Linked DNA regions of Homo sapiens. The protein of the gene in region 4 interacts with the protein of the main gene of each other region in a pairwise test. Each region holds a gene or a part of one and is shown on either strand. Other genes may lie near its edges.

Region 1 (7,434 bases), on a different chromosome or scaffold from region 4:
CTGGTCTAGAACTCCTGTACTCTAGATACTCCTGCCTCAGCCTTTCAAACTGCTGGGATCACAGGCAAGAGACACTGTGACTGGCCAGAGTTGGGCATTTCAATAATCCTGGCCAAACTCTCCCAAACCTGCAGCCTCTACTCTTGGCCCATGTGCCCTATCCCCTCAATCTTCAACCAGGAACCAATGACACCACTGCATACCTGTCTGCCACCCTTCTCCTTTCTTACACACACAAACACACACACGCTCTACCGTGGGCCCAGTCTGCCCGATACATACTGGTCTCCGAGATAGAGGCCTGGCCAGACCTCGTCGGCATGGTTACAGGCTGTCTTGCCTGTGTAGAGGAGCCGCTCCAACTCGAAGACATTGAGGAAAGGATGTTGAACGGTTGGCATCTCCTCCAGGGTCCCTCGAGTTCGAACAGGAGACCTTGAGCTACTCCGGGAGAAGCGGGCCATAAAAGTCATAGAAGCCCAAAGCCAGTTACCAGGGCACATCTTAGAGGTGGCAGAAACCGTGGCAGCTGCAGGAGTGGCTGTGGTGATGATGGGTTCAGTTGCCAGGTAGCTGCTGCTGGAAGAGGAAGGGGTGTGAGACACACTTGAGTGAGTCCAGAGCAGCTGCTTCCCTTCCCTGGGCTGGTCCTTCGGGAGAAGATTCTCGAGGGAGAGAAGGTAAGCCTGGCTCTGGCAGGAGCCTTCAGGGGTGGCTTTTTCTTCAAGCTGCAGCAGCTCCTTTTGCTCAGCTCTTTGGCTCTGCCACGAAACGAGGTGGGAGAGTCACATGTCCTTGTTTACGGGGAGAGGGAGCTGCCCAGCTGCTAGGTTTCAGCTTCATCACCCCACCCCCACTGCCAGCACGCATACACACACACACACACACACACACACACGGCACTTGGGTGGTTGTCCCCACTGCTGGGGATCTTGCCAGCTGGAATCTGAGTCTCATCTGCCTGGGGCTATCGGCAGAGAGCCTAGGGAGCTGGGATGGGGTTGGGGGTACCTTTAGACCCATCCAAAGAGAATTAGCAGGGAGACAACAGCAGCTGAGGCCATGACACATGTCAGGCCTGCCATCTCTGTGCCAGAGTTAGACTTTAACCCCTTCGTGACCTGCCACTGCCTCAGAGATAAACCTGCTATGGGAAGGGTGTGGTGGGGGTGGGATGGGGTGAGTGGAGAATAGCAATAAAGAGGAAGAGTAAGTTTGCAAAAAATAAATACTTGCTGAATGCATGAGCTTATGGAAGAAGGCACCAATCTATGTGCACAACAGGCAAACCACCCTCCTTGGATCAGCATTAGGAAATTACTGATCAGATCTCAGCTCTAATGTGAGAATTTCTGAATCTAAGCAGGGTTGGAGTGTTTTGTCTGTGTGTGTCTTGAGGGGAGGGTGACAGAGGTGGATGGTGGGGGAATTGACGCAGGGTTGGAGTGTTTTGTCTGTGTGTGTCTTGAGGGGAGGGGGGACAGGGGTGGGTGGTGGGGGCCTAGAAAGCAGGAAGGAAAGGGAAAAATGAGGGATCCTGCCAGGTCCAGGGGCTCAGAGGCTTAGAATTACCAACCGTATGGCTGTTGGAGTCAAGTGACCCTACAAAACACGAGGTCAATAACGAGGGGCTTAGCAGGTGTGTCTCAGATTACCTGTTGAGCTGCAGAGCTGGGAAGGACCAGCGTTTGAGGCTTGCCCTGGGACCTTCAGGCAGGGAGGCAACAATGGCAAGGCCCCTTCCCCCTCCCTCCCCATCCTCTCACACCTGTGGTCCTGCCTGTTTGAAAGCAGGAGGTCCTGGAGCCTGCAGAATCCCCTTCCACTCCCTTCCTGGCCTCCTGCCAGGGGGACTTCAACTCTATGACCAGCAGTGAGAGGCCATCTTTGTCCCTGCCCATGCTCTGTCCCCATCTCACACCCCTAGACAGGGCCCAGCTCTCCCTTGCTCCAGTGCCAAGAGAAACCAAGCACTTACAAGGCATTAGAAGCAGGGGTTTTAGGACCAGGATTGGTGAGGGAAGATTGGATGTTAGGGAGTTTAGGGAGAGAGAGTTTTCAATGGCTGGGTCCGGAAGGAGCACAGAAATATAGCACTACAGCCATCATCACCACCACCATCACCATCATCACTACCACCATCACCACCATCACTATCACCATCATCTTCTTCTACCTTTGCACCCAGGCCTAAAGACCCCATTACTGTATTGCAATACAACCTTTCCTCTTAGAGAGTCTGCTGTCTACGAGATGATGAATGGGATGGGGGAAGCGTGAAGGAGCCCAGGTCTAAGAAGGATCTCCGTGGGGCTGTTTTTCCCGGGGGATGCAGAAGCCCCTTTCTGTCCAGGGATACAGCCCTGGGCATTCTCCAATCCCATCCGTCGGCTCCAGGGGCCCTGGCCCGCCGCTCCCTCCCTCCGCCTGCGGTCGCCTTTGTAACAGGTCCATGGCTGTCGCCCCAGTCCTCGCCAGCCTGGCAGCCGGGCCCCGCGCGCGGAGGGAGGGCGCCCGGGAGAGAGAGGCTGGCTCGCTGGGCTCGGGTGCCCGCTTCCCGGTCCCCTCCCTCCCCCGTCGCCCCTAGCTGGGCGCCTCTCCCCAGCGTGGAGAGCCAGCTGAAAAGGCGAAGGCCCGCCGCAGCCCCTCTACCTCTTTGCAAGCGCTGCGCTGGGCCTCAGTCCGAAAGGCGGATCGCCGGCGCAGACAGCGCCACGGCCATGACGCTCCTGCTGCTGTCGCCGCCGCTGTTTCTGCCCAAGACAGGTTGACAGATTAGCAGCTATTTTTAAGCCATGACACACACGTCGAAGCAGGGTTCAAATCAGCGTGTGCGCTGGTGACATAAAGGGACTCGGTCTCACATTCGGTGGCCCGAGTCGCCAGGCAGCGTGGGCTCCCCAGCCAACCCCCCACGAGCCCGCGCGCCTTGCAGACCAGACACGGCCCCGCCGAGCCCCAGCAGCACCGCCTGGAATGCATGCGTGTGTTCTCAGAGCTGCACCAATTACAAAGCGTTTTGCCTAAAGATTACATTATAAGTCATCCCAGGCACTGTCTTAAACACACACACTCCTCCCAGACAGAATTAACTAATTACATAGACACGATTCTGTGCACTGGCTTGTACATGCCTCGGTCTCAAGAAACCGTGTCATAAAGAACAATGGTCCGAAGCCCCCATTAGCCTTCATTATATGCCATGTGCTTCATTTAGCTTAAGGCATTTTATACTCCCCACAAGTCTATGAGGGAGACATAATTACTATTGTCCTAATTTTAGGGAGGAGGCGACCTAGGCACAGAGAGGCTAGGTACTCTGCCCTGGTCACACAGCTCGTTACTGGCAGAGCTGAGCTTGTTCAAACAATGCAGCCTGGCTTTGCAGTTTATGTCCTTAACCACTCTCTAAACCAGTGCCTCCCACAAAATGGAGAAGGCACCATGGATTTCCTTCATTCAGGAAGCCATTTCCACCAGCTCAGCTCATAGTGAACTTCACTTTCCCCAGACTCTCAAAACATTCATCTTCATATTTCTTTCTTTCTTTTTTGAGATGCAGTCCCACTCTGTCGCCCAGGCTGGAGTGCAGTGGCGCAATCTTGGCTCATTGTAACCCGCCTCCCAGGTTCAAGCCATTCTCCTGCCTCAGCTTCCCAAGTAGCTGGGATTACAGGCGCCCGCCTCCATGCCTGGCTAATTTTTTGTATATATTTTTTCTTTGTTTGTTTGTTTTTTAGTACAGATGGGGTTTCACCATGTTGACCAGGCTGGTCTTGAACTCCTGACCTCAGGTGATCCACCCACCTTCTCTCAAAGTGCTCAGATTACAGGCATGAGCCACTGTGTCCGGCCATCTTCATATTAATTTCTCATGTGCTGCCTTCTAGTGACATATTCACTTGATCGGCATTTTTATTGTAAGCACCAAGATTGTAAGCACTTTGAAGGCAGGGACTGTGCTACCTTCCCCAGTGCCTACCTTATTGTGTGAGAGGGAAGTGGGGGAGATGATAAATGTTAGCAGATGATGCTGTTGAGAACTAGGCTGGCTTGAACTCTCGCTGTCTACTAGAAGAAAGGCAGAAAGTAGATTGGCTCAGATTGAAGCTGATGGTGTCAGCTATAGCTGAAACCAGGACTGACTCCATTCCCAGCAGTGGTGGCAGATCAGGTTTTGATCTCTGGGTTAGAGAAAGTACTGGCCAATGTGACCAATCCCCAGGTTCCATGACAGGCTGCCATCCAAGTTTAATGTACCGCCTAGCCTTTTTTTTTCTCTAGAGAAACAAAATTCTTTTCACTTTTCCTTGTCCCTTGTGTTACAGCAGTTTAAATATGAAATGAAATCCTTGTCATTTAAAACAAAGAGGCAGGGCATGGTGGCTCACACCTGTAATCCCAGCACTTTGGGAGGCCAGGGTGGGCAGATCACCTGAGGTCAGGAGTTCGAGACCAGCCTGGCCAACATGGTGAAACCCCATCTCTACTAAAAAACAAAAATTAGCCGGGTGTGGTGGCAGGCGCCTGTAGTCCCAGCTACTTGGGAAGCTGAGGTGGGAGAATCACTTGAACATGGAAGGTGGAGGTTGTAATGAGCTGAGATCATGCCACTGCACTCCAGCCTGAGCGACAGAGCGAGGCTCCCTCTCAACAAACAAACAAAAGCGAAAATAAACAATCAAACAAACAACAAAAAACCCCAAGGAATTGACCTGAGAAATTTGAGATTTTAATTTGCGCATCCAAATTAAAATTTGGATTTAATTTGCAAACCTAGTTAAAACATTATCATAAAAGGAATTGTGAAAGAGCACTTACAAGATCAATATCTTTTTTTTGTTTGTTTGTTTGAGACGGAGTTTTGCTCTTTTTGCCCAGGCTGGAGTGCAATGGTGCAATGTCAGCTCACCGCAACCTCCACCTCCCGGGTTCAAGCGATTCTCCTGCCTCAGCCTCTCAAGTAGCTGGGATTACAGGCATGTGCCACCATGCCTGGCTAATTTGGTATTTTTTAGTAGAGACAGGGTTTCTCCATGTTGGCCAAGCTGGTCTCGAACTCCCGACCTCAGGTGAAGATCAATGTCATTTTAAGTGAAAAGTCTTCAAGATTGGTAGGTTGAGAGGATGTTGTAGGTAAAGCTGATCTCAATCTTTGACAAGACCTCTGTTTCAACCCTGCATTACACTTTTTTCAAAAAGCGGGGAAAATACAGTTTAAAGTACACCACAGACAATGTGTACAGCTGTTTATGGGTAATTATAGAAATTACCTGGGGACTGACATATCCGTGAGGATCATTTTCATGAGTCGATCTATAGCCCACTTGATTTCTTTTGTTTTGTTTTGTTTTGTTTTTTTGTTTGTTTTTTTGATTTTTTTTTGAGGCAGGGTCTCAGGCTGGAGTGCAGTGGTAAAATCATAGCTCACTGCAGCCTCAACCTCCTGGGCTTAAACCATCCTCTTTTAAACGATCCTCTTGCCTCAGCCTCCTAAGTAGCTGGGACTATACAGGTGCATGCCACAATGCCTGGCGATTTTTTTTTCTTTTTTTTTTTTTTAAGACAGAGTCTTGCTCTGTCTCCTAGGCTGGAGTGCAGTGGTGTGATCTTGGCTCACTGCAACTGCTGCCTCCCCAGTTCAAGCAATTCTTGTGTGTCGCCTCCTGAGTAGCTGGGATGACAAGTGCATGCCACCACACCTGGCTAATTTTTGTATTTTTTGTAGAGATTAGGTTTCACCATGTTGGCCAGGCTGGTCTCAAGCTCCTGACCTCAGGTGGTCTGCCCGCCTCAGCCTCCCAAAGTGCTGGGATTATAGGCCAGAGCCACCATGCCCTGCCAATCAGCTCATTTTATCTCACCCATATATTAAATTGGTGTCATCATTCTGATTGAATACCTGAGAGAGACTGACATTTGGTCAGATTAGTTAACTCATCCACATCTAGTGTGTGGCAGGACACAGGTTCAAACCCAGGGCTATCTTATTTGAAACTTCAGTGTTTCAAGACTAGGCTGGAGAATCGTTTCCTCTGTAAAGCCTTTTTGGATTCACTCTTTTTTTTTTTCGAGACCAAGTCTTGCTCTGTTGCCCAGGCTGGAGTGCAGTGGCATGATCTCAGCTCACTGCAACCTCTGCCTCCTGGGTTCAAGCAATTCTCCTGCCTCATCCTCCTGAGTAGCTGGAATTATAGGCATGCACCACCATGCCCAGCTAACTTTTTGTATTTTTAGTAGAGACGGGGTTTCACCAAGTTGGCCAGGTTGGTCTCGGGCTCCTGACCTCATGATCTACTTGCCTCAGCCTCCCAAAGTGCTGGGATTATAGGTGTGAGCCACCGTGCCCGGCCTGGATCCACTCTTTTTTTTGTTTGTTTTTTGAGATGAAGTCTTGCTCTGTCACCCAGGCTGGAGTGCAGTGGCTCAGTCTCAGCTCACTGCAACCTCCACCTCTCGGATTCAAGCAGTTCTCCTGCATCAGCCTCCCAAGTAGCTGGGATATAAGAGTGTGCCACCGTGCCTGGCTAAATTTTGTATTTTTAGTAGAGACAGGATTTCGCCATCTTGGCCAAGCTGGTCTCAAACTCCTGACCTCAAGTGATCTGCCTGCCTCGGCCTCCCAAAGTGCTGGGATTACAGGCATGAGCCACTGTGCCCAGCCTGGATCCACTCTTATTTGTCCGTTTCCTTCTTTGTGCTCATATACACTTCCATCAAAGGACCTATGAGCTATATTTGTTTCACTTATTTATACACTTATTTAAATTCATATTGCCCGTACTAGAAGCACGAATGGATACACTATGCTGGGATGAAGAGATTAGAGATGGAAAAATAAGGCTATGGAAAGATAAAGATAGGGCCAGGAACTGCAGCTCGTATGCCTGTAATCCCAACACTTTGGCGGACCGAGGTGGGAGGATTTCATGAAGCCAGGAGTTGGAGACCAGCCTAGGGAACATAGTGAGACCATGACTCTACAAAAAATAAAGAATTAGCTGGCCATGGTGGCAAGCACCTGTAGTCCTAGCTACTCAGGAGGGTGAGGTGGGAAGATCGCTGGAGCCCAGGAGTTTGAGGCTGCCGTGAGTCATGATTGTGCCACTGCACTCCAGCCTGGGTGACTCAAAAAAAAAAAAAAGACAAAAATAGATTTCAAAATAGTTCTGAAAGAAATGATTAAATAAATATACAGACAGGGAGGTGTTCAAAAATAGAATGTGGGAAAAAAGAAAAAACAAGAATGACCATCAAAATATGGCATATGTTAAAGGTCAATTCTAACTGCTACCATTTAATTATGGGCTGGGCTTTACATACATTAGCGAATTCAATCCCATAAATAGATTTAATTAATTCAATTTTACTGTTGAGGAAACAGGTTTAGAGTGCTGGTGGTAAATCCGCTCTGAGGCCAGAGAGCTAATGAGT
Region 2 (7,022 bases), on a different chromosome or scaffold from region 4:
CCTCCCAAAGTGCTGGGATTACAGGCATGAGCCAACACGCCCGGCCTATTTTATTACTATTTTTTAAGGGATTAGGTTTTACTATGTTGCTCAGGCTGGTCTTGAACTTCTGGGCTCAAGCAGTCCTCCCACCTCATCCTCCCAAATTGTTGGAATTACAGGTGTGAGCTACTGCACCTGGCCTGTAGTTGCTTTTTAAAAAACAGACTTTTCTGAACTATTTCTGTAATATCTGTGTTCTTTGTCATGTTTGGCCACTGAAGTCTCTGTTCTCTAATTTTAGTGGTTAGCTAATGATTGGAGAGACATTTCCTTAAACTGGAACAACAACAAAATCTTCTAGTCTTTGCCAAATGGCACTCTGTGTGCCTGATGAGGCACACCTTTAACACTCAGACAATTTACAACTCTACCTTAGCCTTCCCTTCCTGCTTGTGCAGCGTTTCAAGGTTTCAAGGTCAGCCAGAGGTGAAAAGCTTGGGGCCTTCTCAGAACTTTCCCAAGCATGTACACAACCCTACACAGGCCAATGGCTTTCTACATTCCCAGGAATTTGTTGGAACATTTCAAGGCTTCTACAGATATGTCCATCAGATTTTCCTTTTAAGATTTTTTGCTTTTTATTGTTTACCCCAACTGTTATCCATTGCCTTCGGCAGTAGCAACATTAAAACAAGCGTAAAATTTTTTTTTCTTTACAAATGTTCCCTCTCCCACTCCATGTTAGTCCATTCTTGCATTGCTATAAAGGAATACTCAAGGCTGGGTATAAATAAAAGAGGTTTAACTGGCTTATGGTTCACAGGCTATCTGATAAACATGGTGCCAACATCTGCTCAGCTTTTGGTGAGGGCCTCATAGCAAAAGGTGATGGAGCCAGCATATCACCTGGCAAGAGCAGGAGCAAGGAGATGCCACACAAGTTTTTTTTTTTTTTTTTTTTGAGATGGAGTTTTGCTCTGTTGCCCAGGCTGGAGAGCAGTGGCATGATCTCGGTTCACTGCGACCTCCACCTCCCGGGTTCAAGCGATTCTCCTGCCTCAGCCTCCCAAGTAGCTGGGACTACAGGCATGCATCACTATTCCTGGCGAATTTTTGTATTTTCAGTAGAGTCGGGCTTTCGCCATGTTGGCCAGGCTAGTCTTGAATTCCTGACCTCAGGTGATCTGCCCACCTTGGCCTCCCAGAGTGCTGGGATTACAGGTGTGAACCACCACGCTCAGCCTGGGAGTTACATTTTTTTGTTGTTGTTTTTGAGACAGGATCTCAGTGTCATCCAGACTGGAGTGCAGTGGCGCAATCTCGGCTCACTGCAACATCCACCTCCCAGGTTCAAGCGATTCTTCAACCTCAGCCTCCTGAGGAGCTGGGACTACAGGTGCACACCACCACACCTGGCTACTTTTTTTTTTTTTTTTTTTTTTTTTGTAGAGTTGGGGTCTCACCATGTTGTCCAGGCTGCTCTCAAACTCCTGAGCTCAAGTGAACCTCCTGCCTCAGCCTCCCAAAGTGCTGGGATTACAGGTGTGAGCCACTGTGCCTGGCAAGGGATGACATTTTAACATGAGATTTGGAGAGGACAAACATCCAAATCTTTCCTTCAACTATCAGAGATGCTTTCACGGCTTTGCCAGTTCTGAAAAGGAAAGACAAATATTCTGTGTGGGGTCTTCCCAGGCATCACTTAACAATCATAGAATGACTCTTCTTTGGGTTATGAGGCTTTGAATGAGTTCTAGCTTCATTCTGCTTCCTCCCTGTGGGAAATGTGGGCTGTTATTTTCCAGGGTTCCTGCTGAGCTAGGGAGTGGGAGATAGGACTAGGATAAGTTAAAATTCCTCAAGTCTTGCCGTTTTTTATCGAGAGTCACTTTTCTTGAATAAATGCTCTTTGAGTTGCTGCAAGCCTTTGGTTAATTTCCAGAATTGTGAACAAACTGCTTCTTATGGTTTTTGTTAGTTTTTTCATTGTTTTTATGGAGGGGTGGAATTTTTGAATTCCTTTTTTTTTTTTTTTTTTTTTTTGAGATGGAATCTCGTTGTCGCCCAGGCTGGAGTGCAATGGCGCCATCTAGGCTCTCTGCAACCTCCGCCTCCTGGATTCAAGCGATTCTCCTGTGTCAGCCTCCCAAGTAGCTGGGATTACAACTGCCTGCCACCACGCCTGGCTAATTTTTGTATTTTTAGTAGAGACGGGGCTCCACCACGTTGGTCAGGCTGGTCTCGAACTCCTGACCTCAAGTGATCCACCCACCTCGGCCTCCCAAAGTGCTGGGATTACAGGTGTGAGCCACTGTGCCCGGCCTGAATTATTTAATCCACCATTTTGCTGTTGTTAACTGGATACAATATTTCTTATTCCACTTCTTCCCCAGAGCAATCATGCAAGAAATGTGTTGCTGCCTCCATCTCACAAGGGAGGAAACTTATTCTGTCTATCTTTTGTGTATTAGTTCAGCAACCATGAGAGAAACCAAGAGAACTGCTTTTTTGCACATAAAATGCTTGATAAGCTTAGTAGCTCTGCTCTTCAAATGCAGCAGGTTACAGGTGTCTACGTTCTGGTTGCTCAGCCATTTCTAGACAGTTGCTCTCGCCACTGCCTTCCAGCCATTAAGCAGGGGGAACAGGGGAAGAGATCATGCCTGTCTTTTCCACACATCGACCAGTGCCCACTTCCCTTCCATCGGCTGGAACTGGTCATAAACAGCTGGCAGAGGGCTCTCTGGGTCTCTTTTCCTTCAGGTGTGAAATAAGAATGTCAATGATAGGCCGGGCACGGTGGCTTACGCCTGTAATCCCAGCACTTTGGGAGGCCGAGGTGGGTGAATCACGAGGTCAGGAGATCAAGACCATCCTGGCCAACATGGTGAAACCCTGTCTCTACTAAAATACAAAAAATTAGCCTGGTGTGGTGGTGCACGCCCGTAGTCCCAGCTATTCGGGAGGCTGAAGCAGGAGAATGGCTTGAACCTGGGAGTGAGAGGTTGCAGTGAGCCGAGATCATGCCACTGCACTCCAGCCTGACAAAAGAGCAAGACTCTGTCAAAAAAAAAAAAAAAAAGAATGTCAATGATATTGAAGTTATACATTTGACTACTGTAACAAAAAAACACAAAATAACACAGCTTGAATAACACAGAAGATGTAATGTCTCACCCTGAAAGTCTTCACAGGTGGTTGGAATGGAGTATGGTGGCTCCATGTCAAGGATTCAGGCTTCTTCTGTTTCATTGTGTCCTCTATCTGCTGGTCCAAGACAGCCCTCAATTGTGCATTCCAGTGAAATGAGAGAAAAAGGGAAAGTTCTCACTCTTTTCCTATAAGGGATGACTCAGAAATTGACTATAATTCTGCACAGTCTAAGTAATGATGTAGGCTAAAAAAAAAAATAAATAAAAGAGAGAGAAAAAAGGAGGCTGGGCACAGTGGCTCATGCTTGTAAGACCAACACTTACAGGCAGACACAAAAGGATCACTTGAGCCCAGGAGTTTGAGGCCAGCTTGGGTAACGTAGTGAGAACCCATCTATACCAAACATCTTAAAATTTTGCTGGGCATGGTAGCAAGCACCTATACTCTTAGCAACTTGGGAGGCTGAGGCAAGAGGATCATTTCAGCCCAGGAGCTGGTGAGCTATGATAGTACCGCTCCACACCAGCCAGGGTAATAATGAGAGACCCCCCACACACACACACCTCCCCCAAAAATAAATTGACTACATTATTTCCACTCACATTCCATTGGCCAGAACTTAGTCACATGGCCACACCTAGCTGCAAGGAAACCTGGGAAATGTAGTCTCTGGTTGGGCAGTCATGTGCCAGGCTAAGGCTTCTGTAACTGTCCAAGCTGGGAGAATGGATCCTACCACATGCATCCCTCCTGAACCACGGATTGGCAGGAGTCGCACAACACTTTATGTGATATAAAGTAATGATGACCAGAGGCCACATGGTGTCATGGTTTAAAACAAGCGTTCTGAATCTAGATTCTGATGAGATCACCTAATGTGCTGAGTGCTTGGGAAGACAAGGGATATCCCATTTCTGAGACCCATTTGTCTCACTTGTAAAATAGGCCAAATAACCTCAAGAGGCGGAGTTGTGAAGAATAAAAGACAAGACAAGTGCTTGGTGCATAGCAAGTGTTCATATCTGAAAAGTGGCTTCCTTTGTAATTCACCAGTTCCTGGAGAGAAAGGGCATGTGTTTTCAAAGTTTCTCTTTTTAAGCTGTGGACCCCAAGGACTTTTTTTTTTCTTTAGACGGAGACTCGCTCTGTCGCCCAGATTGGAGTACGGTGGTGCAATCTCAGCTCACTGCAGCCCCTGCTTCCCAGGTTCAAGCAATTCTCCTGCCTCAGCCTCCCAAGTAGCTGGGATTAAAGGCACCACCACGCCTAGCTAATTTTTGTATTTTTAGTAGAGTTGGGGTTTCACCATGTTGGCCAAGTTGGTCTTGAACTCCTGACCTCAAGTGATCCACCCACCTCGGCCTCCCAAAGTGCTGGGATTACCAGAGTGAGCCACGGCACCTGGCCCCCAAGGACATTTAGCTCAGTGTTTGGTTGAGTCCATCCTTCTTCCTCCACATGTCTGAGCACCCCACCTCCATCCCCCTTTCCCTCCTGGATCCTATTTTTCTCCCAGCCCACCATGAAGAAAGGTCGTTTATGCCCTGGGTTTGCCGCGCAGGAATGCTAAGAATCAGAGGTATAGCCCTTGGCTCCAAGTCACATAGCCATTCCAGGGCAAAATCAAGGTGTAAACACAGCCTCCCAGTTCTGGAATTCTTCCTGGGCTTGGGGCTTGCCCCCACATACCCACTAACTCACCTGTCTCCCATTCTTCCCCAGAGTGGGGTCAACAGTGGATTGGTCCGCGCCAAAGACTCCATCACCAGCTTGAAGGAAAAGACCAACCGGGTTAACCAGCACGTGCAGTCTCTGCAGGTGTGAGGACCCCCTATATCCAACACCTGCCCTTCCTCCAGGGCCAAGTTCCCTTCTTGGAGCCTGCCTCCAGCAGAATGCACCCATAGCTCAGTTGGGGAGCTTGAGGCTCAGAAAGAAAAGGAACCTTCCCAGGCCCAGATCTTCTTTTCCACAGGCTGTCCCCTCGTGTCCTTGGCTAACCTCTCCTCCTTCCATGCTCCAGAGCGAGTGTTCTGTGCTGAGCGAGAATCTGGAGAGAAGGCGGCAAGAGGCAGAAGAGTTGGAGGGGTACTGCATTCAACTCAAGGTGAGCCAGTGGGACGCAGGAATGGATGGGGAGAGGGGAATGGGAGTAAGAAGAGGGTGGGAGAAAGAGGGGAGGAGGCTGGGTGCAGTGGCTCACATCTGTAATCCCAGCACTTTGGGAGGCCGAGGCAGGCAGATCACCTGAGGTCAGGAGTTTGAGACCAGCCTGGCCAACATGGTGAAACCCCATCTCTACTAAAAATACAAAAATTAGCCAGGTGTGGTGGCGGGCGCCTGTAATCTCAGCTACTTGGGAGGCTGAGGCAGAAGAATTGCTTGAATCCACGAGGTGGAAGTTGCAGTGAGCCAAGATTGCGCCACTGCACTCCAGCCTGGCCGACAGAGCGAGACTCAGTCTCAAAAGAAAAAAAGAAAAGAAAGAGGAGAAATGGAATGGGTGGACCGAAGAGAGGTGGGAGGAAGTGGAGGGGTGCCACTCTGGCACATCTGGCTAAGGAGGAAGCCATCCCCTTAGCCAAGGAAATGAGCTGGTGAGTGTGTCTTGTACTGGGGGGCTAGGAGGCCTGGAGCCTGGATGGAAACAGACAGGCTAAGGGTTGGGAGGCAGAACTGGAATGGGAAGGCAGGGCCCTCGCCCTGGTGTCTGACCCAGGAGAACTGCTGGAAGGTGACCCGGTCTGTGGAAGATGCTGAAATCAAAACCAACGTCTTGAAGCAGAATTCTGCCCTGCTGGAGGTAAGGGCTAGGGGGCAGTCCCAGGATTTGTGGGAGGAGGTCAGATGCACGAGGGACTCAAGATACACTTTTAGGTGGAACTCCCTGCCCCGACACCACCACCACACTGCACCTTCGTGCACATAGTCATCCTTAGAACTCGCTGATAAGAGGGATTCAAATGAGGCTCCAACACCCAGATGGGGGACTCTTGCCCTGCAGTCACATTCAGGTCCCAGAAAGAGAATCGAGCTGGACTTCAGGTGAGAAGGCCCGTCCTGTCCACATGCCCACTCATTTTCCAACAAAATGCTGAGAAAGCTTCAGTTGTTCTTGCCAAGTGGCCGGGACTGGTATTTGACGCCTGGAGGGCTTGGAGGGCCGGGTGGATACCTGGAGGCAGGCTGTGGGAGGTTAGCGGGAATTGGAGTCCAACTGGGCCTCAAATGGTGCCTCCCCTCCCTAATGACAGCCAGTGAGACTTCCAACATACTGTCCCCACAGGCGTTCTACTTCCAATCTCGGGGAGTACTGGAGCGGATTTTGGGGTGGAGGTGGTTGCGGGAGGAAAGCGGCTGGACGCTGTGACCCCGTCCTCCCTTACCACCCAGGAGAAGCTGCGCTACCTCCAGCAGCAGCTGCAGGATGAGACGCCGCGACGGCAGGAGGCCGAGCTGCAGGAGCCGGAGGAGAAGCAGGAGCCGGAGGAGAAGCAGGAGCCGGAGGAGAAGCAGAAGCCGGAGGCTGGCCTCTCCTGGAACAGCCTGGGCCCCGCCGCCACGTCCCAGGGCTGCCCCGGCCCGCCAGGGAGTCCCGACAAACCCTCGCGGCCACACGGCCTGGTCCCCGCAGGCTGGGGAATGGGGCCTCGGGCTGGCGAGGGCCCCTACGTGAGCGAGCAGGAATTGCAGAAGCTGTTCACCGGCATCGAAGAGCTGAGGTGGGCGGGACCTAGGGGCGGAGCCTCGAAAACGAGATCGGCGGGGACTCAGGGGTGGAGCCTCGAGGAGATGCGGTGGGCGGGACCCAAGGGACGGGGGTTCTCAAGTAGCTGAGGTGGGCGGTGACATGGGTGGAGCCTCGGGGACCTGAGGTGGGCGGGAAC
Region 3 (6,823 bases), on a different chromosome or scaffold from region 4:
GGCAGCCTTGCCTGCTGAATTTGTGCTTCCAAATCCTCCTATTCTTTTTTCTGAGCTTTCTCCTAACTTAACATACGGCAAAAGCAACAGTTGAGCTATTCTGTCACGTGGATTAGCACTCCAGGGAACAGTGGAGGAGATAACAATTTGAATTTCTCCGTAGCAATCAGAGTCCACTACTCCTGTATGTACTTGAATTCCCTTTAAGTTGGACCTTCCCAGTATAAGTCCCACCGTGCCATTTGGCAGTGGGCCATAAACTCCTTTTGGGACCTTCCTGGACTGCGGCTGGCTTCCCAAAGTGGGGAAGAGGGCTGGTTGAAACCTGCCTCAATCCATTTGGGAACACTCCATTTGGAGTCAGGGATGTCCCGTCCTGAATTGGGAATGCCCCGTTTTGAATTGGGGCCCGGTCCTGAGTTTTGCCTTTTTTGCCTCTTTGTACACTCTCTTTTTGTATGTCCTATCTGTCCACAATTATAGCAAGACCTGGGGAACACTCATGTGTTTTTTGTTACCCTTAGTCCAGCCATTGCCTGAGCAAGGAAGCTGGCCTTATATAAGTGCTCCCCAATGCCATCACAGGCTTTAATGTATTCACTTAAAGCTTTTTCCTCATTTAGATCTGCCTTTCCTTTAATAGGTCTAATTGCTGCCTGACATTCTGTATTAGCATTTTCATCAGCAAGCAGCTGAACGATCACTTTCCTGGCATGAAAATCTGAAATAGCCTTTTGAGCCGCATCTTACAAACGGGCAATAAAATCTGGATAAGGCTCCCTTGGACCCTGTCGAACTGAGTTAAAACACGGATAAGTTGTACCAGGGTTGTGAATTTTTTCCCAGGCTCTTAGGCATATAGTTCTGACCTGATCAACAACCTCATCACCCATTACCATTCTGTTGATTTAGAGTACCCCATGTGATTCCAAGCAATTGATCAGATGTGATATTAACGGGACGTTGGACTTGAGCATTTCTGCATGCCCGATTTGTTGCTTCATCTGTCCACCAGGTTTTAAATTGGAGAAATTCAGAGGGGGACGGAGTGGATTGGGCTAGTGCCTCCCAATCCATAGGTATTAAACGCCTGTTATAAGCCACAGATTGTAACAAGGAATGAACATAAGGAGAATTTGGCCCATATTGTCCAATTGCTTGCTTTAAGTATTTTAATATTTTAAAAGGAAGTGGCTGCCAGCATGCTTGAGCATGTTCTCTGGGCTCCTCAACTGGCGAATTAATTACCAGAAACTGCAAAGCATCCAAATCCCCCATTTCTCATGCCTGGCGAATGGATGACGGGATTGTCCCCGTGCCATAATTTGTATTTGGACCGGCTCGCAGCATTCCTCTACCACAATTAACAGGTGGTAGAGGATCATTCCCTGATCGTAATTGGCTGTTAGGCGAGCCTGAAGCTTCCCTTCGCCATAGTTATTGGTGGGGCCTGCAACAATGGGAGCGGCAAGCCGCGTCTCAGGCTCCAGTTCCAAAAATTTGTAAGGCTGAGCCGGGGGTGGCCATTCCAGACCTTCCCCTAAAGGCGAAGTAGGTGGCACTGTTTCTTTTATAAGTTTTTGGAGATTAGCATATATACCTTCCCGTTTCTCGGCCTTTTTAAAACTAGACTGTGATGGTTGATTTTGCTGATCATTAGACTCCTGATTATTAAAGTTTTCTATGTCATCCTGAAGCTCCTCCTCAGTGTGGAAGGGCTCCAGTGCTGTTTTAATTGCAGGCCACGCAGACCAAGCAAGAAGGGAATATCGTGGCCCTCTTGTTGTGCTCGTTTTAAGTCTGATCCGACCTTGTCCCAGTCTTTTACATTCATGGTTCCATATTCCGGGAACCAAAGAGAATACTTTTTTACCAGATAGAACAAAGATGGGAGATTTTGGGTACTCACAATTACCCCTCCGCGGCGCAGTAACTGCCGGACAAGGCTTCAGTAATTAGCAAACTTACTCTCAGCCTGACCCATAGTTTCCGGAGGTTACCCTGGAATTTTCCGAGCGCCCTACTTACCTGTAGAGCTTGAAGTGAAAACGTACTCGGGCGTCCTTTGTCAGTCATCCTCCACTTTCCACTCTCTGGCATTCCTTCACTGGATTATTTGTAGAGATTACCGGGAGCCCGGCGTTGGGCACCAGAGACCAGCCTGGGCAACTGAGGGAGACCCCATTTCTACGAAAAAAAAAAAAAAAAAATTAGGCAGGCGTGGTGTCCAGTGCCTGTAATCCCAGCTACTCCATGAGAGATTGGACAAAACCTGGGACCAGAGACTGATTTTCTTCTAAAATGCTTTCTCCAAAATATTTTTAAAAGAAAAGGGGGAAATTGGAAAGGAAAATGTTTTGAGCCCCCCAGATCACTAAGCTAAAGGGGAAAGTCAATCTGGGAACTGCTTAGGGCAAACCTGCCTCCCATTCTATTCAGAGTCATCCCCTGCTCACTGAGATGAATGCATATCTTATTGCCTCCTTTGGAAAGGCTAATCAGAAACTCAAAAGAATGCAACCGTTTGTCTCTCACCTACCTGTGACCTGGAAGCCCCCTCCTGGCTTCGAGTTGACCCGCTTTTGCTTCAGGTTGTCCCGGATCAAACCAGTGTTCATCTTACATATGTTGATTGATGTCTCCTGTTTCCCTAAAATGTATAAAGCTGTCAGATACAGTCAGTTTCTCTTCCAAGGTTTGGCATGTTAACTTTCTTGTTTTTTTGTTTTCGAACTCAACTTTCTTGTTCTCCATGCCTCCTTGCCCTTAGTTACTGTAAACAACCTTCCGTCAGTTCTAATCAATAACTCACATCTGTTCCCTTGGTTACCTGCTCTGCACCCATTTCTCCCTTGGAAACCGCAAGTCCCACCATTGTAACTCACATCCCCCTTCCCCCTTCCTTATTTGGGAAAATATTCACAAATAGCCAACCGGGTCAGTTTAGATCGTGCGGTCTGACCCCAGCCCATGCCAGAGGTAGGGACTGCGTTAGGAATAAAAACCCCTGCTTTCCTCTGTTCAGTGTGCTCTTGCGATCGTGATTGATGCGAGCAGCACGCTTCTGCAGAAGTAAATTGCGTTGCTGAGAAAACTTTCGCTTGAGTGCTGGTTTCACTTTGCGGCACCGAGCATTTCTCTCCAACAAAACCAAGCTGTGCTCTGACCACCTTGGGCACATGTCATCAAGGACATCCTGAGGCTGTGTCATGCATATGCATCCCCAACCTTGGCAAAATAAACGTTCTAAATACTCTTACCCCAAATGCTCAGGGAGACTGATTTGAATAATCATAAAACTCCAAGCCTGCACTCCAGCCTGGGAGACAGAGCAAGATTCTGTTTCAAAAAAATAAAATAAAATAAAAAAACTCCGGTCTCCCGCACAGAGGACACTGCGTGAATTACTCTTTCTCTATTGCTATTCCCCTGTCTTGAGAAATCGGCTCTGTCTAGGTAGCGGGCAAGGTGAACTCCCTGGGCAGTTACAGAACTGTCATTATATTGCTTCCAATTTTATATATATATATATATATAAAAGGCACAAATAGCTATAACTTGTATACAGGTTAAATGTGAATGTCCTTCTTGCATGGTCGGATCCCAGCGCAGGAAGGACGCACCGCCTACAAACCGCTAGGCCAAAAGCGGTCATTCTGACCTCATCCAGCCTCACGTGAGATCGCAATCTCCTGTCACTCAGGGCCTGAGGGGCGGGGCCTGAAGCCCCATCCAATCAGGGGCGCTGGGGTGGGGACCGTTCAATCAGGCGCGCCGCCGGAAAGGAGAGGGCGGCTTCCGGGATCTGCCTGGCGGTTGCTTTGTCTCTCCTTCGCCGGAGCCGGCTCTTCCTGTTAGTCTCCGCTGCTAGTTCTTGGCTCTGGGAGGCCCAGGTGGCTCTGCAGCAGCCTCTGCCACCCTGTGACCTGCGAGTATTGGGACATCCCTAGCTGACGCCAGGACACCCGGGAAGCCGAGGAATGGTGAGTGGACTGCGCCTGGCTTCCCGAAGTGGAGAAGAGGGCTGGTTGAAACCTGCTGTGGCGCGACTCGGGCCTCCACGCCATCGGCTCCGGAACCTGCGGACCGAGTCGCCGTGGCGTAGCCGGGGCTCAGTCCTCTTCTGTTCAGGGCCGGGCCGGGCGGGGCGGGCAGCGGAACCCCTGCATCCTGTCTGTACCTGCGGGCGCCACTTCCGCCGGCCGGAGCCCTGTCGGGAACCCCTCGCCTCCCCTATCCAGGTAGTGTGGTGACCACGGGAGGGTGATGCGGGAGAGCCCCGACTCGGTGTCTCGGTGTGCGGGGTTCCAGCATGGGAGGAGCTGTGGTTCATGGGGCTTCCAGTCCCACCTTTCTTCCCCTAAAATTAAGCCGAGGCTTTGTTAAAACGTTAAACCGTGTGTTTGAGCAAACGGCGATTCATAAACCAGGTACCGCAGTCATGGTTTGTGGTTTGGGGTCCACAGAAGGGGCGTAAATGAGAGGCTTTGATAAGGTTAATGAGGAAGCAAACCATATTCTTTTTTTTTTTTTTTTTTTTTTTTTTTGGAGACGGAATCTCGCCCTGTCGCCAGGCTGGAGTGCAATGATGCAGTCTCACTCATTGCAACCTCTGACTCCCGGGTTCAAGCGATTCTCCTGCCTCAGCCTCCCGAGTAGTTGGGATTACAGGCGCCCGCCACCACGCCCAGCTAATTTTTGTATTTTTGGTAGAGACAGGGTTTCGCCATGTTGGCTAGGTTGGTCTCGAACTCCTGACCTTAAGTGATCCGCCCGTCTCGGCCTCCTAAAGCGCTGAGATTACAGGCGTGAGCCACCGCGCTCGGCCAAAATATTTTTCTGTTTACAAACATTTTACATGAGAGGAAAGCGGAGAATAAACCATCTGACACTCTACTGTAAAAAAATCTTTGTGCCTCTCTTCATCTTTCCTAAGTGTGCATATTACCAAAATGTCTTTAGGTTGATGTCCCCCTGTGAAAACTTTACAGGGTGTTGTGTCCTCAGCCCTTGGTCTGCTTGCTCATCTCTCTGCTAATACTGTGCTGTCCTGAATATTTTTGGTTGAAAATCTTAAAAGTATGTTAGGCAAGACATAACTCTTTTTTTAGATGACTGAAAATCATTAGACATTTGTCATTTTTACTAGGTATGAAAAACTAGTTTTTCTTGCCTAAAAAAGCCTGATTTGGGAATTTATGTGATTTCACAGGAATAGCATCTGGAAGTGGTGACATTAATGTCATTTTAAAAAACATGTGCCATATTTCCTCTTATTCCATTCTGCCTTGACATTGTGCAATAGAAATTTAAAAATTGTATTAGTAAATTGTTAAATATCAATTATTGGTTTTATTTACTACTCAATTAAATTTAATAAGCCTATTCTCTCTTGGTGTAATCACATGGAATGGGCTCAACTCCCCAATTAACAAGTGACAGCACATATAAAATATTGTCTACCAGGGAAACTCATTAAACACTTAGTGTTCAGACTGTGTTTTGGTGTCTGGTTCCCTAAGCACCACTGCAGTGACACAAAATAATAGACCTTTAGCAGAAAAAGTTTTGGCAACTATATTGCATAAACCATTTAGATGCAGTGAGTCATTCTTATTACTTAGGTTGGTGGAATCCCTTTCAAAATGTAAGTTACTAATACAAACAAAGATTGAACTTTGTGAGCAGGCATTTTTAAGAATAAGTAGTCTTAGGACTGATATTATTAACTCACTTATGCACATCAGGTAGGACTTTATTATGGCAGATACTAGAAATGTACGAAGTGAAATTAAGAGGTAACCTAGCAGCACATCTTACTCCCTGGATTCTCTAATGAGATGGGTATTTCCACTTTGCTGTTGCCTTTTTGAATAGTTCAATTCTAGCATTAGTACTGCTGTGTGGGAGGGAGTATGTGTGAACAGAGTAAGAGTTGTGACAATCAAGTCATAGAATAAATGCTTGGAAATTATCAAATCATGTAAACAGCTTATGAATTGAGTATAGATTCCCAGTGCTGTCAGTCTCACCCATCCTTCTATCCACATGTGTGGAATGTTCTAGGACTCGGTGGCTTTTGAGGATGTGGCTGTGAACTTTACCCAGGAGGAATGGGCTTTGCTAGATTCTTCTCAGAAGAATCTCTACAGAGAAGTGATGCAGGAAACCTGCAGGAACCTGGCTTCTGTAGGTAAGAATGACAACACATTTCAGTTAATTACAGAAGTCTTTCCCTATCATCAGTGCTATTTATGATTTGGAATGTGGCAAGGGAATGATTTGGTGAATAAATCAGGCATGGGCACTGTGTACAGTGAACATTAAATCTAGTAATGTGTCTACAGTTTGTAATAATTCATGATAATTTTATGGGTCTGCATTTTAGGAAGCCAATGGAAAGACCAGAATATTGAAGATCACTTCGAAAAACCTGGGAAAGATATAAGGTAATTTGCACTGAGCAGAGGAAATAAAGTCCTCTGAAGGAATCTTAGCATGTCATGAACTTAAAAACAAGCAATCAAAACAAATAAGAGTCACTTGAAATTTATTTATTTTTAGAAAAATTTCACCCAAAATGTAACGTACTTCAATGTAGCAGTCAGTGTTTGCAAAAGAGTTTACTTGAAAATAGTACTACAAAACTGTGTATATGAATATTACTATTTTGGTCATAGCCATGCAGGTGGTAGCTGTGTTTTCAGTAGTAACCCATTTACTTTGAAATAATTCAGTCATGGCAAAAAAAAAAATGCATTTTCCCTGATATTGGTAGCAGTGTAAGTCCAAGACCTATTAATAAGTAGAAAGTTATTAATAA
Region 4 (7,822 bases):
TACCAAGAAATCATTTTCATCTATCCCCCTGAAGTGCTCACTTTCAGAATCTCCTGTCCTCCTATGCAACATTGGCTGTTTTTTAAGCCTGCTACCCAGCTGTCATGTGGGAACACTCACTCAGTGCGCTCACATTGGAACTCCATTTCCAGGAACCTAAGTTTTCCTTTTTCATGTTTTTCTCTCTAGTGGCTTCCTGACAAAATGTGCAAAAGAGATAATTTTTTTGAGACCTTTCATGTCGGAAAAGATTTTTATTCCACCCTCACTTGTGGTTGTTAAAGTAGAGAATTTTGGTTCTCTACATAAGTCACAATTAGAAAAAAACTTAGAAATGAGGTGACAAACCTTAGGAAAGGATTAGAAATAAAAGGTTGGATATCATTTTGCGTTCACTTTTTTTTTTTTTTTAAGAGACAGCATCTCGCTCTGTCAACCAGGCTGGAGTACAGTGGTGTGATCACAGCTCACTGCAACCTCCGCCTCATGGGTTCGAGCAATTCTCTTGCCTCAGCCTCCCAAATAGCTGGGATTACAGGCACATACCACCATGGCCCAGCTAATTTTTGTATTTTTAGTAGAGACGGGGTTTCACCATGTTGGCCAGGCTGGTCTTGAACTCCTGATCTCAAGTGATCCACCTCCCTCGGCCTCCCAGAGTGCTGGGATTACAGGCGTGAGCCACTGCGCCTGGCCTGGGTTCGTATTTTGAAAGCATTCTTCACTAGAATGATGGCTTTCCTAAAATTGAATATGTGTTGGTTTTGCTCCTGACATTTTAAGTGTTTGTTTGTCGCCCCCGCCCCCAGCCATGGTTCTCTGAAAGATCCTGTGGATGTGCCTCACTGTGGATGTTTTTCATTTATCATTCATGGTTCTTGGTGGTCTCTTTGAATTTAGAAGCTCAGTTGTTTAGTTCTGAGTAGTATTTCAGAAAATATGTTTATAAAATAATTTCTTCATGATTTCTCCCTTCTCTCTTTCCAGAAGACCTACTTGATGTTGTTCTTCTTTGACCAAGTCTCTCATTTTCTTTTTCTTTTTTTTTTTTTTTTTTTTTTTTTTTTTTTTTCTGAGATGGAGTGTTACTCTGTCGCCCAGGCTGGGGTGCAGTGGCGCGATCTCGGCTCACTGCAAGCTCCGCCTCCCGGGTTCACGCCATTCTCCTACCTCAGCCGCTGGAACTACAGGCGCCCGCCACCACCGCCGGCTAATATTTTTGTATTTTTAGTAGAGACAGGGTTTCACCGTGTTAGCCAGGATGGTCTCGATCTCCTGACCTCGTGATCCGCCCACCTCGGCCTCCCAAAGTGCTGGGATTACAGGAGTGAGCCACCGCGCCCGGCCCAAGTCTCTCATTTTCTAATATTTTCTTTTATCTGTAAACAAGTTCTCTGAGAAGGAAATTCAAGGACAGAGACTTCATTCCAGCAAACAGCTAGCAAGCTGGTGAGACACAGCCTTTGGTGTAAAATGAAAATGTGTTCCAGAGAACAAAGGAAGGGAATTTGTCTTTTAGAGAAAGTTCCCACCCAGGTTCCCACTTAGGTCTGCTTATGCAAAATGCAGGATTGAAATTTACTTAGTTCTGGTTGGTTGATGTTTGCTTAGTTAGCTCTTATTAGTCAGGGCATGCAGACTTCTGATTGATCCATGTAGGTTACAGCCTATTGTTTGGTTCAGGTGGCATAAACTGGAAGCTATGAAAGTCCCAAAGTTAAGCAGATGTGCACATTTTCTGGGAACTCAGAGTAAATATGTGACCTGTAGTCAGCAAATGGTTGCTTGGTTTTAATTTGAATTTAGGCCCAGTTAGCTGCTCAGGACTCATCTTAAGAGGCTGGTTCTTTACGCCAGGCACGGTGGCTCACACCTGTAATCCCAGCACTTTGGGAGGCCGAGGCTGGCGGATCTCTTGAGGTCAGGCATTCGAGACCAATCTGGCCAACATGGTGAAACCCCATCTCTGCTAAAAATACAAAAATTAGCCAGGCATGGTGGCATGTGCTTGTAATCCCAGCTACTTGGGAGGCTGAGGCAGGAGAATTACCTGAACCTGGGAGGTGGAGGTTGCAGTGAGCCAAGATCGCGCCAGTGCACTCGAGCCTGGGTGACAGAGCAAGACTCAGTCTCAAAAAAAAAAACAGAGAGAGAGAGAGACTGGCTCTTTCAAGGCTCACATATTTATCTTTTCATCTTTTTGTTCTAATTTTGGGGAGTTTTTTTTTAAATTTATTTTCCAATTCATCTATTGAAGTTTTCTTTTGGGACTTAGTTTTTAATTCTAAGAGGTCTTTTATGTGCTTCCTGTTCAATTTTAATGATGTTCTATCCATGTTTTAAATATACAGTATTTTTGTTACTTCTGAAAGTAATAATTATAGGTAGTTTCTTTTTTAAAGTTTTCTTCAACGTTCTTCATTATCTCTGTTTCCCCTGAGTGCTATTTTTTGTTTGTTTGAGTCTCTGTCTTTCTTGTTGGAGTGTTTTTCAATGTATCGTGATATTTTAAATTATGTTCGTTTTGAGTAAGACCTTAAACATTTGAAAGCTTTGTGTGAAGTGTCTGTGTTTCCTTCCAGAGTGGTTGTACAGTGAGCTCCCTTTTTGTGGAGAACACTCAAACAATTCTATCTGGAGGTATTTTCTCTGAGATTCTTCAGCTTCCTCAGAGAGACCCAACAATTCGGGCTGGCTACATAATTTACAAGGCCCAGTGCAAAATGAAAATGTGAGGTCTCCTGTTGAAAAGTCAGAAAAAAAGTTCAGTTAGAAATATTAAAATAGGTCCAGCGCGGTGGCTCAAGTCTATAATCCCAACACTTTGGGAGACCAAGGTGGGTGGTCTGAGGTCAGGAGTTTGAGACCAGCCTGGCCAACATGGTGAAACCCCGTCTTTACTAAAAATACAAAAATTAGCCGGGCATGGTGGCAGGCACCTGTAATCCCACCTACTTGGGAGGCTGAGGCAGGAGAATCACTTGAACTCGGGAGGCAGAGGTTGCAGTGAGCCGAGATGGCACCACTGCACTCCAGCCTGGGCGACAGAGCGAGACTCCATCTCAAAAAAAAAAAAAAAGAAATAGTAAAATATAAATCTTTTTCTTCTAAAAAGTCTTATTATTTATAACATGTAATGAGGTAACGGGTACACATATATAACAGCATAAACTACAAACAGCAAAGAAATAATGTTTTGGTGTCCTAATTTTATGTAAAACAATAAACCATAATACTTTAATAATGTATTAAATTGATTGACAAATCTTTCTGGCTTTTTTTCCGCAAGCTCATTTATTAAGTCATGAAAATTTATATTTTTGCCAACTTCATTTTCAATCTAGGTAATTGAAAGTGATGTCAATCATTCTTGGCAAATGCAAGATCTCAAATGATTTGTTATAATTTTTAGTCTGAAGAAGAAAACCAGGTGGAAAGAATAACATGAACAAAGGCAAAGAGATGGGAAAGAGGGAAGTAGTAAAACAGAACGGACAAGTCAGTGCGGGAAAATTTACATTAAGACAGTGAGGTGGCTCCTGCCTATAATCCCAGCACTTTGGGAGGCCAAGGTGGGAGGATCTGTCGAGCCCAGGCATTCAAGACCAGCCTGGACAACATGGCAAACCCCAACTCTACAAAAAAATACACAGATTAGCCAGGCATAGTGGCGTGTGCCTGTAGTCCCAGATATTTGGTAGGCTGAGGTGGGAGGATCACTTGAGCCTGGGAGGTTGAGGCTGCAGTGAGCTGTGATCATGTCACTGCACTCTGGCCTGGGTGACAAAACGAGACCCTGTCAAAAAAAAAAAAAAAAGAGAGAGAGTCGTAAATACCAAGCACAAAACTATAAGAAATGACAAAGGTAGGGCACAGGAGCTATAAGTGGAAGAGAAAAGGGGAGCAACATGAGATGTAGAAAATTTCTTAGAAAGCAACTGTCTGAAACTCGATCAGACTCATCAGACTGAGGTTGTCAGTATTGAATGTAACCAAGAGGGTATAGGGGAAAAAATAAAAGAAATGATGATTAGAGATGTGCAGTGATGTCTGAGAGGTTAATTTCAGTAAAATAGTGGGACCACAATTCAGAAATAAGAGGTGAAAAGTACAAGAAGCAATGCAGAAAAGTGCTATGGAAATGGACAGCCAATAGAAGGAATGCAGAAATATGAGCAATCTACAGACAGAAAGTGAATATAGAGACCACAGTCTAGACCCTTCACTTTACAGATGTGGAAACTGAGGCCCGAGGAGGTGACCAATTCCTTTACTTAACCTGGTTAGCAATGGAACTTAGACAGAAAACCAGTACAGATGAAATGGTAATTCAGGAAGGATAAGGATCAAAGGAACACTTTCTGTCTCCAAAGAAGATTCCCTTTAATGCCTCAGTTTTCCTTTAGGACCTCCCCTCCTTCTTCTGATACTATGATACTTCATTGCTGAAGAAAATGCAATGCTGATTTGAGCAAGGGAAAGAGAAATCTGTCTATCATACTTTTTTATTCTTATAGGTATTATGCATTCCTGAAGCCTGGAAGACAGGAAGAGTTACTCATACTAAATTTGAAATGCATCACTATAATAATCCTGATAATACTCCACCCTGTCCAACTCCAGAGATAACAAATAACCCCACAATAACTATCCACCTACAGAAATGGACACAGTATGGTAAAGCCATTCATTAAAAAAAAAAAAAAATCACCCCATTATGGATAATTCACAATGAGCTGGCAAACATCATTTGGCTATGAGCAAAGCTCATCAAGAAACACCCTAATAATGTGTATATAAAGGCAAACCAAGCTGTTTGAGTAGGCCGTTCACCATCAGAGCATCACCGCAGAAACAAAGGCTCCAGCCTCCGGACACCATGTCTGTGCGCTTTTCTTCTACCTCCAGGAGACTTGGCTCTTGCGGGGGCACTGGCTCTGTGAGGCTCTCTAGTGGGGGAGCAGGCTTTGGGGCTGGAAACACATGCGGTGTGCCAGGCATTGGAAGTGGCTTCTCTTGTGCTTTTGGGGGCAGCTCATCTGCAGGAGGCTATGGCGGAGGTCTGGGCGGGGGAAGTGCTTCCTGTGCTGCCTTCACAGGGAATGAGCACGGCCTCCTCTCTGGCAATGAGAAGGTGACCATGCAGAACCTCAACGACCGCTTGGCCTCCTACCTGGAGAATGTTCGAGCCCTAGAGGAGGCCAACGCTGACTTGGAGCAGAAGATCAAGGGGTGGTATGAGAAATTTGGACCTGGTTCTTGCCGTGGCCTTGATCATGATTACAGCAGATATTTCCCAATTATTGACGAACTTAAGAACCAGGTAAGAAACGCCATGGCGTGAGTGTTAGCACTCCTGAGAGTGTTTAGCCACTCACAGATGCACAAATGTATAAGCTATCACAATAACAGGGCTTTGCCCTCAGCTTCTAAATTTTAGGAGTTCATTTTCAATATTAAAAATAATTTCTAATAAATTCTAATATTTGAACATGGCACGTCCATCATGTAGTATTAGGTATATGCTTTTGGTAATATTAAAATATCAAAAGCTGTCCAGTGTCTCCAGTTATATATTTATAGGCTTTCCCATAGAAAGAGCTTTTTTTAATGCTTGGGGTGGGAAATACAAGAGACCATACCCAGCCAGGCACAGTGGTTCAGCCTGTAATCCCAGCACTTTGGGAGGCCAAGGCAGGTGGATCACTTGAGATTAGGGGTTCAAGACCAGCCTGGCCAACATGGTGAAACCCTGTTTCTACTAAAACTACAAAAGTTAGCCGAGCGTGGTGGCACATGCCTGTAATCCCAGCTACTTGGGAGGCTGAGGCAGGAGAATCACTTGAATCTGGGAGGTGGAGGTTGCAGTGAGCCAAGATCGTGCCACTGCACTCCAGCCTGGGCAACAGAGCGAGACTCGGTCTCAAAATAAAAGACAGAGAGAGAGACCATACTTAAATTACCCATCTTCAAAAGAATGGTCTGATTATTAGAGACAGATGCCAGAAATATTACTATAATTTCATGGGTAATTTTATTTCAAGGAACTTTGAAATGCATCTTAAATATTTCCTCAATCTTAACTAACTTTTCATTTGTCAGATAATTTCTGCAACTACCAGTAATGCCCATGTTGTCCTGCAAAATGATAATGCAAGACTAACAGCTGATGACTTCAGACTAAAGTAAGTAGAGCTGAAGATAAATGGGAAAAAAAAGTTGTCTAAGCATTTTTTCTCCTTTATTCTTCTAAGTTATTTGACGTTGTCTCAAGCCTTTGTTCTTGTTTATTCATGTATTTGTTTTAAACAAAATGCCTGTTAGAATGAGTAACTAGCTGAGCAACAAATTTTACTTGGGAAATTTCGGGACTAACAAAAACGAGTGTCAAAGTCATATGAGAAAGAATTTTGGCTATTCCCATTCTCTTGCTTCAATGAAATGTATTTATTGCATGATAGATGACCTAACTGAAATGTGTTTTTTTAATTAATTAATTTATTTATTTATTTATTTATTTTTTGGAGACGGAGTCTCGCTCTGTCGCCCAGGCTGGAGTGCAGTGGCGCAATCTCGGCTCACTGCAAGCTCCGCCTCCTAGGTTCACGCCATTCTCCCGCCTCAGCCTCCCGAGTAGCTGGGACTACAGGCGCCCACCACTGCGCCCGGCTAATTTTTTGTATTTTTTAATAGAGACGGGGTTTCACCGTGATCTCGATCTCCTGACCTCGTGATCCGCCCGCCTCTGCCTCCCAAAGTGCTGGGATTACAGGCGTGAGCCACCGCGCCCGGCCTGAAGTTTTAAGTATTATCTTAGTAGTTTTACCTCAAAGCTTAGTCTGAGTTGTATGATGATCTAAAAAGTGATGTGCCATGTCTAATGACTAATGATGAAACTTCCAAATACTTTTCTAAGGTTTGAAAACGAGCTAGCGCTTCACCAGAGCGTGGAGGCGGACATCAATGGTTTGCGAAGAGTCCTGGATGAGCTGACCTTGTGCAGAACGGACCTGGAGATCCAGCTGGAAACTCTCAGTGAGGAGCTCGCTTACCTCAAGAAGAATCATGAGGAGGTAGAAGCTCCACCCGGCTGGCTCTCACAATCGCCTCCCTACCAAATTTTAAAACTAATTTCAGATGATAAATATAATGTCTTAAATTAACATTCAAGAAGGAACCTGTCAGTTTCTCCATAAGGCTTAGATTGTTTGAGACGCTTCTATTCATTCTTCTCAAAAGAAACAAACCTCCCAAAAAGTTTCTAACCCTATAGATCTTGTCCATCTGACTCCTTTAAAAATATTCAGGCCAGAAGCGGTGGCTCATGCCTATAATCCCAACACTGTAGGAGACCCAGAATGGAGGATCGCTTGAGGCCAGGATTTCGAGGCTGCAGTGAGTCATAATTGCACCACTGCATTTCAGCCTAGGCATCAGAGCGAGACCCTAACTCAAAAAGTGCAATAAATAAAATATTCAGATCCTAATTCCGTTAAACAAATATCTTTCAGGAAATGAAAGCTCTTCAGTGCGCGGCTGGAGGCAACGTGAACGTGGAGATGAACGCGGCCCCCGGGGTAGACCTCACGGTTCTGCTGAACAATATGCGAGCTGAGTACGAAGCCCTCGCAGAGCAGAACCGCAGGGACGCGGAGGCCTGGTTCAACGAAAAGGTAAAACCACGCTTGGGTGCGCCCGGGCGCGGACTCAGCCCCAGCGCCCTAACGCGGCCCCTGCCGTTCCAGAGCGCCTCGCTGCAGCAGCAGATCTCTGACGACGCTGGCGCCACCACCTCAGCCCGGAATGAGCTTATCGAGATGAA

Evidence for each region.
Region 1: the proteins of KRT27 (region 4) and DUSP26 interact in binary tests that used the Homo sapiens proteins (3 or more experiments, as listed by UniProt).
Region 2: the proteins of KRT27 (region 4) and TSKS interact in binary tests that used the Homo sapiens proteins (3 or more experiments, as listed by UniProt).
Region 3: the proteins of KRT27 (region 4) and ZNF669 interact in binary tests that used the Homo sapiens proteins (3 or more experiments, as listed by UniProt).

The regions. Positions count from the first base shown.
Region 1 is NC_000008.11:33,597,013-33,604,446, forward strand, and holds the start of DUSP26 (dual specificity protein phosphatase 26), read right to left. Parts: upstream 3,012-7,434; 5' UTR 2,653-3,011; intron 748-2,652; exon of another isoform or gene 580-747; 5' UTR 504-579; coding exon 283-503; intron 1-282. UniProt on the Homo sapiens protein: Inactivates MAPK1 and MAPK3 which leads to dephosphorylation of heat shock factor protein 4 and a reduction in its DNA-binding activity. Inhibits MAP kinase p38 by dephosphorylating it and inhibits p38-mediated apoptosis in anaplastic thyroid cancer cells.
Region 2 is NC_000019.10:49,746,305-49,753,326, reverse strand, and holds part of TSKS (testis-specific serine kinase substrate), read left to right. Parts: intron 1-3,159; exon of another isoform or gene 3,160-3,265; intron 3,266-4,836; exon of another isoform or gene 4,837-4,857; coding exon 4,858-4,953; exon of another isoform or gene 4,954-5,158; coding exon 5,159-5,242; intron 5,243-5,854; coding exon 5,855-5,938; intron 5,939-6,528; coding exon 6,529-6,857; intron 6,858-7,022. UniProt on the Homo sapiens protein: May play a role in testicular physiology, most probably in the process of spermatogenesis or spermatid development.
Region 3 is NC_000001.11:247,101,357-247,108,179, reverse strand, and holds the start of ZNF669 (zinc finger protein 669), read left to right. Parts: upstream 1-3,823; 5' UTR 3,824-3,980; coding exon 3,981-3,983; coding exon of another isoform or gene 3,984-4,241; intron 4,242-6,066; coding exon 6,067-6,193; intron 6,194-6,388; coding exon 6,389-6,449; intron 6,450-6,823. UniProt on the Homo sapiens protein: May be involved in transcriptional regulation.
Region 4 is NC_000017.11:40,779,551-40,787,372, reverse strand, and holds the start of KRT27 (keratin, type I cytoskeletal 27), read left to right. Parts: upstream 1-4,822; 5' UTR 4,823-4,879; coding exon 4,880-5,323; intron 5,324-6,102; coding exon 6,103-6,185; intron 6,186-6,916; coding exon 6,917-7,073; intron 7,074-7,511; coding exon 7,512-7,673; intron 7,674-7,745; coding exon 7,746-7,822.